Linked DNA regions of Homo sapiens. The protein of the gene in region 3 interacts with the protein of the main gene of each other region in a pairwise test. Each region holds a gene or a part of one and is shown on either strand. Other genes may lie near its edges.

What was found.
Region 1: the proteins of BBS10 (region 3) and BBS7 interact in binary tests that used the Homo sapiens proteins (3 or more experiments, as listed by UniProt).
Region 2: the proteins of BBS10 (region 3) and BBS12 interact in binary tests that used the Homo sapiens proteins (3 or more experiments, as listed by UniProt).

What each region holds. Positions count from the first base shown.
Region 1 is NC_000004.12:121,853,467-121,860,581, forward strand, and holds part of BBS7 (BBSome complex member BBS7), read right to left. Parts: intron 5,713-7,115; coding exon 5,526-5,712; intron 2,096-5,525; coding exon 2,023-2,095; coding exon of another isoform or gene 1,978-2,022; intron 1,358-1,977; coding exon of another isoform or gene 1,355-1,357; coding exon 1,238-1,354; intron 1-1,237.
Region 2 is NC_000004.12:122,728,690-122,735,769, reverse strand, and holds the start of BBS12 (chaperonin-containing T-complex member BBS12), read right to left. Parts: upstream 3,067-7,080; 5' UTR 2,886-3,066; intron 1,867-2,885; exon of another isoform or gene 1,679-1,866; intron 1-1,678. UniProt on the Homo sapiens protein: Component of the chaperonin-containing T-complex (TRiC), a molecular chaperone complex that assists the folding of proteins upon ATP hydrolysis.
Region 3 is NC_000012.12:76,345,416-76,352,419, forward strand, and holds the start of BBS10 (BBSome complex assembly protein BBS10), read right to left. Parts: upstream 3,001-7,004; 5' UTR 2,944-3,000; coding exon 2,747-2,943; intron 2,373-2,746; coding exon 398-2,372; 3' UTR 1-397. UniProt on the Homo sapiens protein: Probable molecular chaperone that assists the folding of proteins upon ATP hydrolysis. Plays a role in the assembly of BBSome, a complex involved in ciliogenesis regulating transports vesicles to the cilia. Involved in adipogenic differentiation.

The DNA.
Region 1 (7,115 bases), on a different chromosome or scaffold from region 3:
TTATTCTACCTAGCTGCTCAGACAAAAATTCTGGGCCACATCTGATTTCTTTCTTTTTCTCACCACCCCTCATATCAAAACTGCTAGCAAATTCCATCTTCTCTACCTCCACAATATATACTGAAATTGTCTATGTTTCCAGCTACTGATAGCCTAGACTAAGCTAGCCTAGACTAGAATAAATTATAATAACTCTTCTAACTGGTCTCCATGCTTCCAGTTTTGACCTGTTGCCCCCCGCCCCCTCCAATCCATTCTCCAGTGTCCTTTGTTTTGTTTAGGCTTAGTAAATTAAGTGTCACACTCCCACTGACAATTTTCTAATGACTTCCTACAGCACCTAGATTAAAATTCAAACTGTTTTCCAAGGCTTACACAATTTGGCTCTACTCTACCTCTCTGACTCCATCTCCTGCCATGTTAACGCATTTAGCCAAACTGACTGACCTTCCTACTGTTCCTCAAATGAATCAAATCTACCTCCACCTCAAATCTTTCACACTTACTTTTTCCTCTTCCTGAAACATTTTTTTCCCCAAATCTTCATATTGCTAACTCTTTTTCTTATCAATCAGATCTCAGTTCAAATTTCACCTCTTCTAAGAGGCTATCTTTGACTACGTGGTCTAAAAGTGACCCTCCTCCTTCTACCATCACTCTCTAATACACAGCCCTGTTTTATTTTCTTCAGGTGACTAGGTAAAGCTGTCTTATGTATTTATTTGTTTTTACTCTGTCTCTCCTAATAAGTATTTGTTGAAGGAATAAATGAATATATGAACATCCTGAACATATACATAGGCATCTCACTATCTACCTAATCAGTTATAAATTCTCCTTAGAAAGGTATAAATTCCTTAGAAAACAGGAATATTCTCTGACCCACTGCACTTCTTCTTTGCCTCATAACAAAGACTCCCAGATTCCAATTAATTCTGTACCTCAAACAACTAAATTACCTCAGACAATTAAAATCCAATTAAAATTGGATTTTAGCATAAAATGATATTAGCCTATAAAAACGTATCAATACCAAATTACTATCAGCATTTCTTACTTTTAAAAAATTATGCCAATAGTATAATAGACCTGACAAATAAACAAATAGTAGATAAATCAAGGTGTGAATTGCTAAGTCTGCTATGTAGTATAAATAGATAAAATAGAATAAATTATATAATTTAAGATACTTAATAATCATTGACACCTCAGAATCTGAACTACATGAAAAGCATACCTCCTCTCTTTTTCTCATTTTGAATTTCCCACTTGCGTACTGGTTTGGATGTAGTAATCTGTATAAGCGCAAGTTTTCCGTCTGATGTCCCAAACAAAAGGTCTTCTCCAGAGTCACCTACTTATAATTAAAGTCAACATATTATATTTATCCTACAATTAGTAATCTCTTTAAAATTAAAATGTTGTTATGTAAAAATATCATTTTAAAAAGTACTATAAAAAGATATAAAACTTAATTGTTGAGAATGGTTATATATTCACACAATTTTATAGCTATAAGAGATAAGACATTTCCCCATTATATAATTTTAAGATGAAGAAACTAGGTTGGGTGCCGTGGCTCATGCCTGTAATCCCAGCACTTTGGGAGACTGAGGTGAGAGGATCCCTTGAGCCCAGGAGTTCCAGACTAACCTGGGCAACATGGCGAAACCCTGTCTCTATAAAAAATACCAAAAACCTAGCCGGGCATGGTGGTGTGCGCCTGTAGTACTAGGGAGGCTGAGGTGGGAGGATCCCTTGAGCCTGGGAGGTCGAGGCCGTGGTGAGCTGAGATTGTACCACTGCACGCCAGCCTGGGAGACAGAGTGAGACCCTGCCCCCCAGCCCCCCAAAAAAGAAAAAAACGGAGAATTAAAAGTTCAATAACTCGTGCTGTTAGTTACTGGCAAGTTACCAGAAAGACAACTGTCTCAATTCTAGTTTATGTCCTTTCTACAATTTCCCATTTTCACTTACTATTAAAACACATAGTTGATTTGTGAAAAATAAAATCCTGATTACCGCCATTTCCATTGTGTAGTGCTAAGACAGTAGGGGGTCCAGGAACTTCAACTGCATACATCACATCAGATCCCTGAAGGAGAAGTATTTAAAAACTGAAACAGAATACAAACTGAAAATAATAGAGGCATTCATGAATAACATCAATATTCAAATACAGTACTCTTAGTAACACCTAGAATAAAATTGCTTTAAAAATTAGGTTACGAATACAACTTGCATTTGTTAGCAATTTTGCATATATCAACTGATTTGAAAACAACATATATACACATATATACGTATAAATGTATACATATATACGTATATATACAGATATGTACACACATGTATACATATATACACATATGTATACATATATGCACATGTATGTGTATATATGTATATGTACATATATGTACATACATGTATGTGTATATATGTATATATGTGTACATGTACATGTGTATATGTATATGTACATATATATGTGTGTATATATATATATATAAAATGTAAAGACCAAGAAGAAAACATTTAAAATATTCTCTACCTTTAATACATTTTAAATACATTGTTTGCCTGAAAACTTGACACTGGCAGATTTTCCTATCAAGTCTCTAGGAACAAATTATTCCCTCTGCCCTCTCTAGGTTAACTGGAAGTCTTTAACTTGGAATACATCCAAATATTTTAACAGACACAAAGTTACTTCCTAAGGAAAATTTTGGCCTTGCCTTTGGGTATTCCCAAAATCTGCTCCAGTCAGAGGCTGAATGACCTGCTACTTAGATAAAAAAACAAGTTAGGTCCTTATATATTTATCAGTTTTTCAATTTTGCTACTTGTAATGCTTGTCATTTTGGGCACAGTATTTGTGATGCTGTTAAAGAATGAGTTAGAAGTACTTATACTCACATGGAAAAAATATCCATGATCTATAATTCAATGAATACAAAATTTGCAAAATGGGGTGTGGTGGCTTATGCCTGTAATCCCAGCACTTCCGGAGGCCAAGACGGGTGGATCATCAGGTCAGGAGTTCAAGACCAGCCTGACCAACATGGTGAAACCGTCTCTACTAAAAATACAAAATTAGCCAGGTGTGGTGGTGCATGCCTGTAATCCCAGCTACTCAGGAGGCTAAAGGAGGAGAATTGCTTGAACCCGGGAAGCAGAGGTCGCAGTGAGCCAAGATTGCACCACTACTCCAGCCTGGGCGACAGAGCAAGACTCCATCTCAAAAAAAAAAGAAAACACAATTTGCAAAATTATAGTTAATATGGTATGACATTTTTGTTTTAATGTTTTTTTTTTTTTGAGATGGAATCTTGCTTTGTTGCCCAGGCTGAAATGCAATGCTGTGACCTCAGCTCGCTGCAACCTCCACCTTCCGGGTTTAAGTGATTCTCCTGTCTCAGCTGCCCGAGTAGCTGGATTACAGGTGCAGGCCACCATGCCTGGCTAAGTTTTGTATTTTTAGTAGAGACAAAGTTTCACCATGTTGGCCAGACTGGTCTTGAACTCCTGACCTCAGGTGATCCATCTGCCTCAGCCTCCCACAGTGCTGGGATTACAGGCGTGAGCCACCACATCAGGACTAAAAAAAGTTTAATGTTTATTTAGAAAACGTAAGAAAGCCATATGCTTTATCTTTTTTTTTTTTTTTGAGCCAGGATCTGACTCTGTCATCCAGGCTGGAGTGCAGTGCAGTGGTGTGATCATAGCTTACCGCAGCCTCGACCTTCTGGGCTCAAATGATGTTCCCACCTCAGCTTCCTGAGTAGCTGGGACTACTGGCATGCACCACCATGCCCAGCTAAATTTTTTTTAAGAGATGGGGGTCTCGCTATGTTGCCCAGGCTGGTCTTGAATTCCTGGAGTCAAGTGATCCTCCAACCTCGGCCTCCCAAAGTGCTGGGGTAATAGGCCTGAGCCGCTGTGCCCAGCCTGTTTTATCTTTTATTTAAAATATCATATTAAAATTTACAGATATCTACACGTAACTATATAAACACAAAAGAATATACACAAAACTGTTAAAAAGAGGCAACCTCTGGAGTAATGGATTATTCACAGAGATAGACGGGGAGTGAGAAAAAAGCATGCGGTGCAGAGGGAAAGACTTCAACTTTATTTTCTACAGATCTTTAGTAATTATTTTAAAAATAATAAGCATATGGATCTCTTGTCAAAGCAGAATCCTAGAATTCAGTCAATTTCTAATTGAATGCTAAACAGCTCCTGTTAAAAGCCTTGTTCAAAACAATTCATATTTAAAAGCATAGGCTATGGGGGAAATTAATCATTCATAACTCTAAAATGAACCTTTTTTCTTTTCTTTTTTTTTTTTTTTTGAGATGGAGTCTCCCTCTGTTGCCCAGGCTGGAGTGCAGTGATGCAATTTCAGCTCACCGCAACCTCCGCCTCCTGGGTTCGAGTGATTCTTGTGCTTCAGCCTCCTGAGTAACTGGGATTACAGGTGTGTGCTACTGCACCCAGCTAATTTTGTATTTTTAGTAGAGACAGGGTTTCACCATGTTGGCCAGGCTGGTCTCAAACTCCTGGCCTCAAATGATCTTCCCGTCTCAGCCTCCAAAAGTGCTGGAATTACAGGTGTGAGCCACCATGCCTGGCCTAAAATGAACCTTTAACATTACTTTGTCCCTGGGGGGTAAAAACCTCATAGACTCACTGGATTTTTCCTTTTACAAAAGGGCTGATGCCAAGAAATGGCCATCTGACTATGGAATTCCAAAGAGTGAGATAGCCTGTGGTGGCATGGACTTCACAGCTCAACTTTTTCATCAACTGCACCAACTATATCAGCCTGTTTCTGATACAGTTCATCTAACTGTTACATGCTATTTACCTTTAAACATTATTTTAAGCATCCTATAGAGTGTGTGTGTGTGTGTGTGTGCATATATTTTATTGAAAGTCACTCTCAAGAAGATATAGTGGTAACTATTATTACTCATAACAATGACCTGAAGCAGTTGTTTTAGCCAATCGTGGTTTTTACCAGAAATATAAGGACATCAAAATGAATTTTCCCTCTATCACTCATTTACTTATCCAACATATATTTACTGAGTGCTTATTCCATATACTTCCATAAACACTGGATAAACTCAAGTTATATAACATCCTCCCTCCAACCCAATTTCTTCCTTTAATTTGATTTTTGGGGAAGATAAAGGTGATGGAAGAAGAAAACAAAACAAAAAGGCAGGTAAAGGTTCTCTGTAGTCAAAGTACTCCATTCTGATAATAGCTCAGAAATTGTGTATGGTGAGGCAAAAAAAATCCTTTTTCTTCCAAATATGCTTCTCTTAAAAACTTACAAAACAACACATTTGACTCAAGTTAAAAAAATTAATATGTCAAATTATTTAAAAATTGTTTCCACATGTTTATAAAAGCCCTTAAAACAGTAACCACTAATTTATCTCAAGTACATAATGTTCATTGATATTCTTTCACATAATATAAAAAATTAGAAAAATACAAATAACAGCAACCTGTAAAACTCTGAGCACTCTGTCCTGGCAGGCCAATACAGGTGTGATACGAGATAATCTTTCCACTGGAAGGCAGATCACATCATTGATTTTATCCCCAGAAAGGTAATAATGTTGGTCTTTGCAGTCACAATAATGGTTATAGATGTAACTTGCACTGAGAAAGAGGTCTGAGCCAGATATGTGCCTGAGAACATTAAAATAGTAATTTTTAAAAATAAGCACAGGTACTGAATTTTTTTCAGAGATAAAAACAGAAAAATGTATACAGTTTACTAACATTTTATTATAGACTTAGAGAACACAGTTTTTAAAACTTTCTCCTAGTTAATTCCTAGTATTTTTGGTATAACACTGTTTTTGATTTTGAAAGCTGAAAATGAGGATGTTAAGGCCTCGGGCTTCTCAATAAAAACTGAGCTCAGAAAAATGGAAAACAAAGACAAGATAATGATAATTTAACTGTCTATATCCAAAGACAATTAATACATCAAAAAATGACTTCTTTGTGTACTATGTGCCAAGCACTATCTTAAGTGATTTTTATGTATTAGATCAATTAATCATCATAACTCTATAAAATAAGGACCATTATTATTCCTTTTACAGGTGAATAATAAAATGTAAAATAACTTGCCTAATGGCACCTAAGTATTAAGTAGTAGATTAGACTGCAACTCAGTTTTTTGCTCGAGTTAGCTTTCTTACTACCACACTAAATTGCCTGAAAAAGTCTATTTTAAGTGATTCTACCTCAAACTAAATGATAAACAGCAGAAAAAAAAAGATTTCATTAGAACTTTATCTTGAAAAAAGAAATGAAAACAAGTTTATTTCATATTACATTTAACAAAATTTAGTCAATAGTCATAACTATATTCTAATTCTTAGACTGAACTGAGTTTTCACTTGGGTGAGCTAAAATGTCTTGACAAAAATTATATTTAAGTGTGATATATTTTTCACTTCTAGGTTGTTATTACCATATTTATCATAAAGAGGGTAATTTTATTTGAATGTTTCATGTATTCCTCTACCTCCAAGTTCTATTAAAAAATTTTATATTAAAATTATTCTCTGAAGAGCTTATCCTATAATAATCCTCCCTGATTTTCTATTCTTCAGTTATTAAGTGGCCTCACTTTGTGGCTCTGCATATGATTGAATAGTCCTCTTACTATTTTTATCAATTTCATGAAATTCTCTATGTTTTTCAAAATTTTAAATTCCATTTTGAAACCAATCTGTATTATATTTGCATTATATTGGCCAAAGTACTATTTAGCAATCTCTATTGTTGACATGAGTGGGGATACATGGCAACATTAAGCAGGAAAGGATATGTGGTGACTAATGTTAAGTGGTCAGTTTCCTTACTGAATATCTTCAAGTTATAACTTTTGTTTTCCTATAAAACCTTACAAATGTGGGGATTCAGACAATCAATTTTCAAAAATTGAGTAAAGAACTTTTCTATCCCATCTTTGCCACTCTAGTAAAAACATTTAAGAAACCACTTGAAGAGACTGTTACTGAGAAACTCTCTATCTTTCTCACACTACTATCCATATAACTGTCCGAATGTAGAGT
Region 2 (7,080 bases), on a different chromosome or scaffold from region 3:
AAGGCAATTTTAGTCAATGATGTATATCCCGAGTACCTACAATATTGCCTGACACACAGCAAGTACTCTATAAATATTTGGTAAGTGAATGAATTTTTTTCACCATATTTGTTCCCCCAAATTTAAGTACAAAACTGAAGCAAGAGAAAACAGACGGTACTTTTAGTATTTCTCCAACATGAATATAAGTTTTAACCATCCTTGGAGTTGACTTGATTCCTATTTGGCACCGCCTTAGTTGAGGCCCTTTAATTGCTTCTAATGAGAGTTCCTCCTTCATATGGTGGTCAGAATTAGCACTGAAAAAGCACAAACCTAAACAGATTACTCCACTGCCAAAAAACATCTATTTATCTTAAAAAAGAAAGTCTTTACTCCTTGGCTTGATATATGTGCCTTATAATCTAACCTCAACCTAATTTATGACTCTTCTCCCACCTTTCCTTATAAACCTCATGATCTTGTCACGCTAGAACATATTTATTTTCACTAAGCTATACTGATTTGAATAGTCTATATTTTCTTCATCTCCATAGATGCTATAGATCTTTCATGACCCAACGCAAATGCCTCATTTCCTATCAGGACTTCTCTAATGCCCTGGGGTAGAGTTGTCCCTCCTTTCTGTGCTCCCAACGCACTTTCTATACCCATCTACCAAAGCAGATTAAAAATACCCTGTATTAAAAACATTGTATTATGTTTGTGTCTAGCTCCCCCACTAATCTGTAGATTCCTTAGTTATTCATCTTTTATATTCTATTTTTATTTCTTTCGAACTCACCCAGTAGTTGGCATAGTGCATGACATATAGAAAACATTAAATACATTTGGGAGATTTAAGAGTGCCTATGTGTTTAATGTTTTCCTGGATAATGATGATGATTAATGTTCTAAAGTGCAGTTAGATTCGTTAATAGCTAGTTTTCAAAACTAATTACATCCTATTCAAGATCTGGGAGTTGGAATCTGAGCCTACAATTAAAAAAACATTTTAACTAGCAGTAAATATTCCAAATATAAAAGCCTAAATCATAGTGATATAAAAATAGGTTAATATACTACTCCGCCATTTAATTGTCATTAGATCAAACATGATCCAAGAGATCCTCGAAATTAGGATTGGGTTGAGTATATACTTGGTCACTATTCATTTCTGGGTCTAAGAAATCCTTTTAATATTAGTATTAAAAATGAAGTATATGGCCGGGCGCAGTTGCTCACGCCTGTAATCCCAGCACTTTGAGAGGCCGAGGCGAGCGGATCATGAAGTCAGGAGATGGAGACCATCCTGGCTAATACGGTGAAACTCCGTCTCTACTAAAAATACAAAAAAATTAGCCGGGCGCGGTGGCGGGCGCCTGTACTCCCAGCTATTCGGGAGGCTGAGGCAGAAGAACGGCGAGAACCCGGGAGGTGGAGCTTGCAGTGAGCCGGGATTGAGCCACTGCACTCCAGCCTGGGCGACAGAGCAGGACTCGGTCTCAAAAAAAAAAAAGTGTATGACCTTGAAACTGATCAAGAGCAACTTTCCAAGTGAGATAAATGACGTGAAAAATCATATATTAAAGTGACCACATTTTACTTAACTCAAAAATTATCTTGGATTTGTGCCATTTTAATTTTCACTGGGTAACTTTATATGGAAAAATCACCTGCAATATGAGGATAAACTTACCTATTTTCCAGAAGCCTAATGAGATTTTTATCAATGATTACAATACTTGCGTGTCTGTCTGGGATATAATATGAACAAGACAGGCTGATGGCTTTGGAAAATGTGCCATGTTTCTACTCAATGAAGCATGAAAAGTGATTTGACAGAGTGCTTCAAGAATGCACTTTGCACTTGTTTTCCTCTCCTGCCTTCAGGAAGATAAGTGAGACAAAAAAAAAAAAAAAAAAAAAAAGACTAAAGTTAGTATTCTTCCTGAATCCATTTTTGAAGAATCCAGTATAATTTTTAGAAAATATTTCCTCTAGAGAAGACATTGTAGGAGGCATAAAAGGGGTCCGCATGTGTGAGCAATTAAAGGTTAGAAGTTTTAAGATTCTCTCATTCCTTCATTCCCACCAGGAAGTCAGTGGTCCATCCTACCTCAGTCTTTCTCCCCTGTCCTTTAAGCTGATTCCTGGCCAAATTCAGAACGGGCAGAAGCAGTAAATCTGGCCCTCTGGACAAGAGATTGAGTTGGTTTACAAAAGTTTCACAAGTATCTAAATCTAGGCCGTTACTGAATCAACTGGATAATCAGACTACCTGTGTCTGACTCTGAAGTGCAGATCAAGTTGATATCGTTGACAACTGGCCAAATCTTAGGACTGGGCCAAGGAAATGGCTGGATGTGTGTGTGTGTGTGTGTGTGTGTGTGTGTGTGTGTGTGTGTGTGTGTTGGGGTTGGAGGGCGGGGTCCGATAGTAATTATGGGTGGGGCCAAAGTCCTACCTCGTAAACAAATGCTACACGAAACATGTAAAAACGTTTATCTATGTATGTAGTGAAGCTTTAAATACATCCCAAGACCCATGCTTATCCCAATACCCACGTCCCTCCAACGACACTGTTACCCCATGCCACTGCTATACAGAATTCTGGTGTCTACCATGCCAGAATCCCTGCCCAAAACAGGGAGGAGGTAAATGGCTGAAGGCCCAGCTCCAGGCACTGTAGAAAATGAGGAAAGTCTAGCGGCAAAAAGAAAGGGCAGTCCCCTCTTCCTCTAGTACTCCTAGCCACATGCTGGACCAATTCACCCCAGGACCTCCAGGCCCTAGATTCTCATTCTTTCCCTGGCCCGAAGAGGACAGAAAAATCAAACACACGGGCTCCCACGTCTTCAGGAAAGACTTAGCTTAGCAGTCAGCGGAAGCACCTCACTACTAACCTCGCTCCTTTCTCCTCTCCTACAGGGGGCTGGAGTTCCCGGCTTCCCACCGGCCAGACGCGATTCTGGCTGGGACAGCAACACCAAAAACGCCAGGGCTAGGGAGCCCAGTTCCCCGTCCGCAGTTTGCGCATGTGCGAAGAGGGGCTTCTGGAGGAGCCGGGGGCTTAGTTGCTAAGAGACACAGCTGGAGAGAGAAGTTCCGCTTAACGCCGGGCTGCGAAAGGCGGGGACGTCACGCTATTGGTAGGGAGTAGAGAGAAAGGGCTGGTTTAAAGGCCTTTTTTTCTGTCCATTGGATGAACTGGATGTCAATAACTCAGGCTGGGTGGGCGGGGCTGAGAGAGGTCGGTGAGAGCGGCCTTAGCAACCGCCAGTGAGCTGTGAAGACTTGGGTTGGGCGGGGCTGCGGGAGGTGACGCCGGGAGGTCCCGGCTGAGAGCGCCGGCTGCCGGCTGGGGACCTGGTGAGTGTGAAGCTGTAACCTTCTGCTGGGGCCGGGGCCGAAGTTTTTCCGCCAGAGCAAGGAAGGCTGCCCCTGGCAGCAACTGCACTCCTTCCTTACTCCTGTTGAGATTCATTTTATAGTAGGAAATAGGTACTTTAATATAGTTTATCATCAATTATTCTGGTTCTGCTAACTATTCCAGTTATATAATTTATCTTTCACCCATATGTGTGTGTATTACAGGCATCTAACTACCATACAAGTTCAGACCAATGGAAGAAAAGAGCAGCAAAAATTGAACTGAATGAATCCCAAAAGCAAGAAATTAAAGACGCCTTTAATTTATTTGATATTGATGGGTCTGGAACCATCGATGTAAAAGAAGGTTCTGAAATTATTTCTAATTCTAAATCATTTTAAAAACCATATTATTTGTGGCAATCTTTAAGGCTTTCTTTAAAAGTAGTCTTCTGAAAGCTTAATATAAAGTCTCTTCAGTGCATATGCCTGCCCTGCATTAGCAAAACGATATCTTGTTAAGCATTTTAATTGTGTTTTATAAATGAGTAGGCAAAAGCCCAGGGTGTAACAGTGATGTACATGATGGCACAGTAGGACTGAAACACAGGCCTGCTGACCTAATTTTCTGTTTATGCTCAGTCCATAATAGAAAAGAGAGAAGCTCTTAATAGGGAGTTAAAAAGCTTAGAAAGAAATCATGGCATATTATAATTCCTTTTCTTCCTATTTCAGATTGCAGTGTGGGCCTTAGGATTTGAACCAAAGAAAGAAGAAATTTAAAAAATGGTAGCTGAAGTTGATAAAGAAGGAATTGGCACCATTAGTTTTGAAGATTTTTTTTTGCCATTATGAGTATAAAAATGATATAGTTATGATTTTATTTTTCAAAGAAATACTAGCAATAACCTGCTACATTTTAGGGCTGGAGCAATCAGAAGTTTTATAGAGAAGCAATTAGAACTAGGTTTTTAAGGATGGGAGATAGGAAGAGCAAGATTAAATATGTTTTCAGGGTAGTAATGAGAAGACTATGATGTGGAGAAGAGGTTTTTGTCAGGAAATAATGAGGCTATATTGCAGGATAGAGAGAATGGGGCCAGAATTTGGAAGCCTTTAATTCAGCAACATATATTGAATGCCTATTTTTGCCAGGCACTATTCTAAGGAGCATTGAAAGATACAACCTTCCATTTTGAAGCTTACATTTTTGGTAACGGATCTGAATTATGAGGTTTAATAAGAGATGCATTCTGGACCACCCTGTGCCTTCTCCACCTTAGCAAGCTCTACCTTTAAGCACCTTGAGGGCAGGTGTGAGTACATAATTGTTAAAAGACCAATAAATAAAATCAGAACACAGCTACTTGGCACATTGCTGCTTTAGACCCCAAAGATCTAATTAAGTCCAGCTTGATAAAATAAATAAATGAAAGACTGGATAGTTGCTTCTTTTTTAAAAGAGTAAAAAAGATGAAAAAGAAGAAATATTGAAGACTTTCAAATTATTTGATGATGATGATACTGGAAGTATAATACTAACCGGTATCAAGAGGTTTGCTAAGAAACCAGGGGAAAATTTAACATGATGAACTTCAGGTAGATTTTGCTTATTTTTATAATTATAATTTATATGTAATTATAACTTATGTGATAATTTAGGATTATAATTCTAACTTTAGTTGCACTTATGCATTTAAAATAAAATTTGGTTTTGAATATGTGTTTGACTTCATTTATGTCATTTTAAATGTATTTCATATATTTACATTTTGTTTTACAGGAAATGCTTGATGAAGCTGATCATGATAGAGATGGAGAAATAAACGAGGAAGATGTTTTGAGAGTGATGAAAAAGACTACTCGTTATTAATAGCGTTGTTTTAGTCCTTGTGGAAAATTAACAAATTTGTATTTGTTATGCAGTTTTATAATTTAATATCTGAATGTATTCATTTTCAGTTTTTAGTTTATATGTACACATTGGCTTCTTGATGTCTAATCCATGTAAGAAGTTACACATCTCTACCAATATGATGTTAAATCTACAGCATCAAGAAACAAAACATAATGACTTCTTTGAGCCATTAATCCAAGAACAGTATTGATTCTAGCTGCTCTTTTGAGAACCTTAGGTCACAAAGACTTAGAATTTTAAAGTTTGATGAAGTTGGCTTCACATCCAAATGAATTTGGCAAACAAAACTTATATTTTCCTTTTGTGCAACCCAAAAAAACCTGATGAACATTTGCTTTTTAGTCAGTTACTCAAATACATAAAGTATTAAATAGAACTGTCTGGAAACATTATTTGCTAATTTTCTTCTTTTAGTTATAAAGAAAATTCAAAATAGCACTTACATCACCCATATTTCCCTGTAAGTTTGACTCTATAGTGAGCACTTAATACCTCTGTGCTAGGACAGGTGGTGTAGAGTTTTATTTTTAAAAAATTTTATTTATATATTTTTTGAGACAAAATCTCCCTCTGTCACCCAGGCTGGAGTGCAGTGGTGCGATCTCGGCTCAATGCAACCTCTGCCTCCTGGGCTCAAGAGATTCTCCTGCCTCAGCCTCCCGAGTAGCTGGGACTACAGGTACCTGCCACCATGCCTAGCTAATTTTTTGCATTTTTAGTAGAGACGGAGTTTCACTGTGTTAGCCATGATGGTCTCAATCTCCTGACCTCATGATCTGCCTACCTCAGCCTCCCAAACTGCTGGGATTACAGGGGTGAGCCACCGTGCCTGGCCGAGATTTTATGTGTTAACCTCAGTAAACATATTACAAGTTGGAAGCTGATTGTATTAGCTCCATTTTACATACAAGAAAACTAAAGTTCAGAGAAGTTTTAAAAATTCCCCAGTTGCCCATTGATAAGAAATAAAACATGGATTCCAAATCTTAAGTTCTTATTCTTCATTATGCTGCTTCCCTATGGATAAAACTTTCAAGATAACTGTGTATTTTCTAACTCATTTTCAATTCTGTGACTCTTGTGATTTCTTCCTTGTGAAAGAGCCAAACTGTTGGGAAACGGAATCTCATACATACAGTCTTTTAACTCCTACTCAGTTGTTTGAGAGTGGGCCTTGGGCCTGGAACACTTCTTTTGAAGAGACTAGGAGTCCACAGAGCCTGTGCTGAACTTACCACCCCGTATAGTAATATCTTCCTCTGTTTCAGAGTCAATGTGTAGTCCTTTGCCCTGCTTAAGTGTGTGCATCATATGGCATCTGACCAACCCCACTGCTCTGTCTCCTGTGGGGGAGGGGATGGGGGTCCTTCAGCACAAGAGGAGTGTTTGCAGGCCACCTGCCCTGTGTCAGCTGCCAAGAGGGACCCTCTGGTCATGGGAGACTGAAGTCCACTAGGGAAGCTGATCTTGCTCTGTCTCTTCTGTATGTGAGTAATGTGTGTTCCACCCAGTGTTTCACTGCATTGTTTTCCTTGGCGACTTTGAAACAAGATGCAGTGGACAGAAGTGCTCAGACTTCTGCTCCTGACAAATAGGCAACAGATGCCACTTGCTCCACACAAACACTTTCTGATAACCAAGTTGTCTTTGGAGCAAGAAAGACTCATAGAAAATTAACTATAGTGACACTACCTGGTTCATTTTTAGCACAACTGAAATGAAAACTGAAGGTTTTAATTTTGTCTTGTCAACACAAGAGGTTTTATTTGATTGAAACTAGAATTGTATGTGCTCATGAGCATTCTCAAGTG
Region 3 (7,004 bases):
ATAAGCCCACCCAAATCAGAGATTAAATGATTCTATGAACTAAACATGTAACGATGAAGGAGGGCTGGAGTGAAAAAGATACAGGAGAGTAAAAAGGAGCTATAAAGAAAAACCCTCCCCTAAACACATAGGCTAACACAGAGCTGAGACACAGAGGCATAAAATAGGGAAAAAACAGACACACTTAGCCAAATCTTGGCTTCCCCTCTAGATTTGTTCCATAAAGTAATTTAATATTTGTATCTGGTCTGGTGACCTTAGTGTGCTTCTTCTAAAGACTTTTAAAGTTACGCTATTTTCCTAAGTAGACTGAACTGACTTTAGAACCAGTGGTCACATGACTGCTTTACTTGGCTTGAGTTAGATGAAAAGTTTGGTTAATTAAAAACTTCTGATGTTATAGTTCATCTTCTGAATCTTGATTGTGAACTTTCTGAGGGTGTCTCTTAACAGTGATTACCATGTCAATGGTTAATATTTTTGTCAAACACTGAAGAACTGAAGTTAGTAGCTGGTATTTACCCATTACTGATTCCAAACCTGTCTGACTGCTTACCAAGGGTTGATTGGTTTGCAGTGCATGGACAGCTCTTATATATGTATGTGGAAAGCTGTACTTTCCTGTTTTAGATTTATAAAGGACTTTGGGAATGCCTAAAAGTGCATTAGCTATTATCATACTAACCATGGTTTCTTCTGATTGATGGCATTTTTTGGCATAATTGAGAAGATAGTAATGTAACAAGATCTCAAAATTACCACCTACTGGCAAAACACAACCAGCTGGCATAGATGAGGAAAGGTAACTCTGGGAAGTACCCATATTCGGTAACTTACAGCTCACTGGTAACATGCTTCCCTTTCTAGTAATATTTGTGACCTGTAAATTTTCGTAAGAAATTTCTATTCTATTTCCCCTTGTTGAATAAGCAGTGGAATTGTTCTTGAGTAATGGTTCATAATAATCAGTTAGCCTGTTTCTTTCCAAAGACAAACATGTCAGCGTTTCAACTGTTTGGAATGTATCTGTTGGTGTCAGTGTGGGGGTTGAATACGGAATATATGTTTCTAATTCTACATCTGGAATTACCAAATTAGAATGTACTTTTAAATATGTTTGAGTTTTTTCCAATGCATCTTTGTTCTCTGCAACTGTGTCCTGATAAGGCCTTTGTATTGAGCCATTACCAGGATCTGGTGCTTGATAACTTTCTCCACTGTTCTTATAAATAAAAAGACTTGAAGTGCCATTTTGGTCATTGGTTTGTGTCATGTAATTTAGATCAAGGTCTTTAAATAATTGCCGAAGCATTTTAAGTGCTCCATGTAAAGCATCCTCATGTTGTTCAATGAGACCATGCACTGGTCCACAAAGAACTATAGAGTGTGGTATAAATGCACATGTGCTTATCAAGCCTAGATGAACATATCTTTTGGATCTAAGGATAAGAGGTTTACAAAATTTCACCAAAGCAGTGTTAGGTATTTCACACTGCGAAAAGGCCTGTGGTGGTACAAATGGAGAAAGACCAATGATCCTCCGGATAAGAGAAACTTCTTCTGATGATAAACACTCAACCACTGATATGCCATTCACCCCTGCATAATAACTAACTAAATCTGGTTGTTTCACACTAGATATGAGCAATTTTACATTCTGACTATGTAGATGTTTCATTATTGCTTTTGTCTTTTCCATAATCCAAAATTGAGATGTCTGAAACTGTGCTTCTGAATTTAGAATAAACTCTGATCCAGAAGTGGAAAAAAGAGGCTGAATGGTTTCTGTTACTATCACCATTCGCATGTCACCATCTGCTGGGCGGTACACAGAAAAATCTTTCTGAAGCACAAGACCAGCTATGATCCTGGAATCTGAAACAGGAAGGCCAGTGACACCAACATTCAACTCTACAAAATGGTCATCCACTAACTCAAATACACCAATCCCACTTTTACAAGTCATACACTTGAAAAAGTAGTCACACATCAACTGTGAAATAAATTTATGATTATTTCTTCCCACTCTTCCACAAAAGTATGCTTCTAAGAGCAACTCTAAAGAGCTCCTACACAATGTTCTCTCTTTAGCAGACGAAAAGATAGACAAAAAGTGTCTACTTAGGTACTGGTCCATAATACCGTCTAATATTTGTGTCTGAAACGTTAGGAGAGCCTGGGAAATAAATTTCCACCGAGAACAATTTTTCCAATGCCTTCCATGGGTTTGAATGTTTTCACACATCAAAGGATCCTTTTCTCTGTCTGTGATTGCATGAAGTCCTCTAAGCAAATGGCAAAGAAAGATAATAAATGTTTTTGCACCATCTCCTGTTTTTTTGAGATGACTGGAAACACAGTCCACTATCATCCTGTACAAAAAAGAAATAAAGCAACTCATTTTCAGAAGGCTGGCTTCCCACATCTTAAAACCATGTTTACACAGCCATAAGCATAAAATGAGAATATTGTTCCTTGGATACATCCTTAGTTTTTTCCTTTCTTGGAAAAAACTCTGCTCTATTCCAAGATTCCACCGTTGGGTGGAGTGGGGAGAAGTGGTCTTGAGAATTGGTAAGATTTGGGGTGCAGGAGTGTTCCCTTGGGCAGGGCTCTAATTCCGAGCATACAGCGGTTTCACCCGAGGTCAGTCTTTCTAAGTACGCATCGCCTCAGGATGGGACAAGAGCTCCACAGAGGCTGCCTGGGGTGCCCGGCTACGGGTTAGCGTGTGGGACGCGGGTACCTGGCTATGGGATGCTCTAAGTGTAGCGCCTCCAGGAGGCGGCCTCCATTCCGGCTGAGAAGCACCTCGCCAGTGGGCTTCGTACACAAAACTTGCCGTCCCTCGGGCCCCACGCAGCAGCTCACGATGGCTTCCAGCACCTCGGCCACCTGCAACGCCGCCTTCACAGACCCTGCAGCGGCCATAGAACTTAACATATCTGGGCCGCTTCCCCTTTTTGACCAGCTTGCAGAACACCCGGGCCGACCGAAAACAGGGGTGGGAACGGCCGGAAACGGAATAGGCGGGGAGAAAACCCGGAAGCCAGGAGTCGAAGCCGGGGTAGCACGGCTTCTTGGTTGGGCGAGAGGGCTGCCCTTCTGTCCGCCTGGTGGAAAAGCCCTGCAGCTTTGCCAGGTGGGGTGAGCTGGCCCGTTGTACGCGAAGGCAGAAAAAACAGACTAGGATTTCCAGCAGCTGTGCCTGGAGCGGCAACCCTAAGCCCCTCCCCGGCTCCCTAGGTGAATTCATCTCCCTCCAGTGGCGTCCGCTGCCCCCAAATCCCTTAGTCTCCCGAGAAACTTTCTTCCTAAGTCAACACGGTAGTGGGGCCTGCGTGAAGGAGAGGGCACCCCGGTTGGAACTCTGCTGGCTTTCATCCCCTGCCAGAAGCTGCTTTTTCCGGGGCAAAACCTCTGCCTTGGATTCACGCATGTTCCTGTCCACATTCCCCACGAGTTGCTCTCCTTACCATAACGGAAATAATTTGTAGATGCAGGACAGGTGAGGAGAGCCTGGCCACAGCCATGAATTGCAGGCTTTATGTCTGCTGCAGAGGCTTTACCACATTTCCTAGACTCAGGTATCACAATAAAACTCTAGACACCACAAATATATTAAGCAGAAATGATGCGAAGTCTCTATTTTTTGAGATGGACTCCCGCTCTGTCGCCCAGGCTGGAGTGCAGTGGCGCAATCTCGGCTGACTGCAACCTCCGCCTCCCGGGCTCAAGCGATTCCCGTGCCTCAGCCTCTCAAGTAGCTGGGATTACAGGCATACGCCACTGTGCCCCGCCAATATTTGTATTTTTAGTAGAGATGGGGATGTCACCATGTTGACCAGGCTGGTCTCGAACTCATGACCTGAATGATCCACCTGCCACGGCCTTTCAGAGTGTTGGGATTACAGGCATGAGCCGCTGTGCAGATTTAAATCCATTAATCACGTCGGTGATCAACAGTATGCTTTAAAACACATGGCCAAGGATTATTGTATATAACCCAAAGACAGAAAATACTGTCTCTTATAACATTTTTTTTGTTTTTTAAGAGATGAAGTTTCACTCTGCCGCCCAGGCTGGAGTGCAGTGGCGAGATCATAGCTTACTGCAGCTCCGCATTCCTGAGCTCGTGATCCTCCTGTCTTAGCCTTCAAGTCGCTTTGTGCCTCACTACGCCTGGTTATTTTCTCTTTTAGTAGAGACAGGGTCTCCCTGTGTTGCCCAGGCTGATCTTGAATTCCTGGCCTCAAGTGATCCTCCCAACTTGGCCTTCCAAAGTTTTAGGATTACAGGCATGAGCCACCTTGCCTGGCCTAAAACACAGGCACTTGAGAGCATGGGCTTTGGATTCAGACCTGGATTTGCTCTGTCATTTCCTTACCTGTGGCATTCACCAAGTAACCTCTTTGATCTCTGCTTTTCTCATCTTTAAAAACAATGGGCCTGCCGCAGTGGCTCATGGCTGTAATTCCAGGACTTTGGGAGGCCGAGGTGGGAGATCACAGGAGGCCGAGAGTTCAAGACCAGCATGGCCAACATAGCAAAATCCCGTCTCTACTAAAAATACAAAAATTAGCTGGGCATGGTGGTGCATGCTTGTAATCCCAGCTACTCTGGAGGCTGAGGTATGAGAATAATTTGAACTCGGGAAGGGAGGTTGCAGTGAGCCAAGATTGCACCACTGCACTCCAGCCTGGGCGACAGAGCGAGACCTTGTCTCAAAACAAAACAATCCCCGCCAAAAAAACCAGTGGAGATAACATATACAAAATAAAAATCTCAAGAGGTTTTGAGTAGGTGGAGAATGTTCACTAAACACTTTGCATAGTGCCTGGCATAGTTAGCACTCAACAGATATTTATATTACACCTGTTAGAGGAAAAGGGTCCCAATCCAGACCCCAAGAGAGGGTTCTTGGATCTCATGCAAGAAAGAATTCAGGACGAGTCCATAAAGTGAAAGCAAGTTTATTAAGAAAGAGGAATAAAAGAATGGTTACTCCATAGGCAAAGCAGCCCCAAGGGCTGCTGGTTGCCGATTTTTATGGTTATTTCTTGATGATATGCTAAACAAGGAGTGGATTATTTATGCCTCCCCTCTTTAGGCCATATAGGGTAACTTCCTGACATTGCCATGGCATTTGTAAACTGTCTTTGGTGCTGGTGGGAGTATAGCAGTGAGGACAACCAGAGGTCACTCTCGTGGCCATCTTGGTTTTGGTGGGTTTTGGCTGGCTTCTTTACTGCAACCTGTTTTATCAGCAAGGTCTTTATGACCTGTATCTTGTGCCAACCTCCTATCTCATCCTGTGACTTAGAATGCCTTAATCATCTGGGAATGCAGCCTAGATCTTAGCCTCATTTTACCCAGCTCCTATTCAAGATGGAGTTGCTCTGGTTCAGATGCCTCTGACGCACCCACCAAATTACTGGAGTTGCTCTGGTTCAGATGCCTCTGACGCACCCACCAAATTACTGTGGTAGGTCACCACTCTCCTGGTTTATTATTCCCACAAGTGATATTTTGTGAGATGCAGAAGATTCAACTAGCATAATGGCACAACATACATCATCTAGAGTCGAAGCATGCCAGTATTAGCAAGAAAATGATCTTGTAGATGTTTCACGAGGTTGGACAATGAGGGGCCGTTTTCCTTAATCCTTATTGCTATGAACAAGATAGGAGGAACCGGCAGGCCCTCCCATCTTTTTCTCCCCAATTAATAAAACCAAACCAAATGACAGCCAGAAGCAACTGGACCCTGAGCAGAGAGCAAGAATGGGAAGAAAGGAGGGTGGGGGAAAACCAGAGAGGAATGATGTCTCGGAACTCATCTGATGTTGACTCAGTATGGACTAATAGGTGATCTGAGGGGGGAAAAAAAAACCCTTTCATATGGATTTCGTATATGTTTAATAGTAGGGTTTTTTTGTGGTGCTACTCATAACAAAGGGGTTACATTACTCAATATAGATTCAAGCAGTGGATTATATTCCTGACATTTAGAAGTGAAGTGCTATTAGAGTTCTATTTAAGTGTACCACGGAGATACAGATTCAAACTTGTGCTTTTACTCTTAAAGTAAGAGTCGGCTACCACTCTTACTCCGCAGCTTTTGGAGACTTTCAACCTCTCTGAGCCTCAGCATCTTCATGTATAAAATCTGGCTAACGTCCACCTAAGGTTCTCATAGAGGATTCGAGAAGAATGAATATAAGGCACCAAGCAAAGCATACTTCAGGGATTCTCACTGTTGAATCCCTTTCAAGCCCTTTGCCATCCTTTGCAGCTATCCCTATCCCCACAAAAGGGGGGATTAAAACAAATTAGCAATAATTTAGTCATCATATTGTATTAAAAGTCACTTGATCACCGTTTGCTCTTTTTAAAAATTTTATTTAGAAGCCTACTTGTAGAAGTTAGCATAATTTTACAGATTATTAGAAAAATTCTTTTCTTTCTGCAAACAGTTATAATAGGTTAGGAATAATAGATTAGAAATGTACTACATTACAAAACAGTGGCCTATAACTATCTGTACATTTACTGTGCACCTTAAGGAAAAGAATTTGACAGTGTGCTGTACTTACACTGCAGGTAACATATTTTTATTCTATCACACAAAACTGACCAGTGGTAGTGCTTGAATTTATGAATGGCCATTAAACAGAACATTTAAACTCAGATGTATATTTAGCATGCTAAAAAGTGAAAAAAATTTCAACTGAAGTTCTGTGGCTCATCAGTTCAAATGTTTCATGGCATTTTTTTTCTTTAAGTGAAAAATTTTGATACTGTAAAACAGTTTTACATAATAAATGCAAAAAGATAACATTTTCTAAATTTTTAGAAAGAATATTCACATTCATTTTGTCATGGGTTTCACGTGGCTCTTCTAAATATATTAATCATATTAATAAGACACTGGTCCTATACAATTTCAACAGTCCATCTTCAATTAAAAACTAACAAAAATAAACAGTATGTAAAGAGTAACA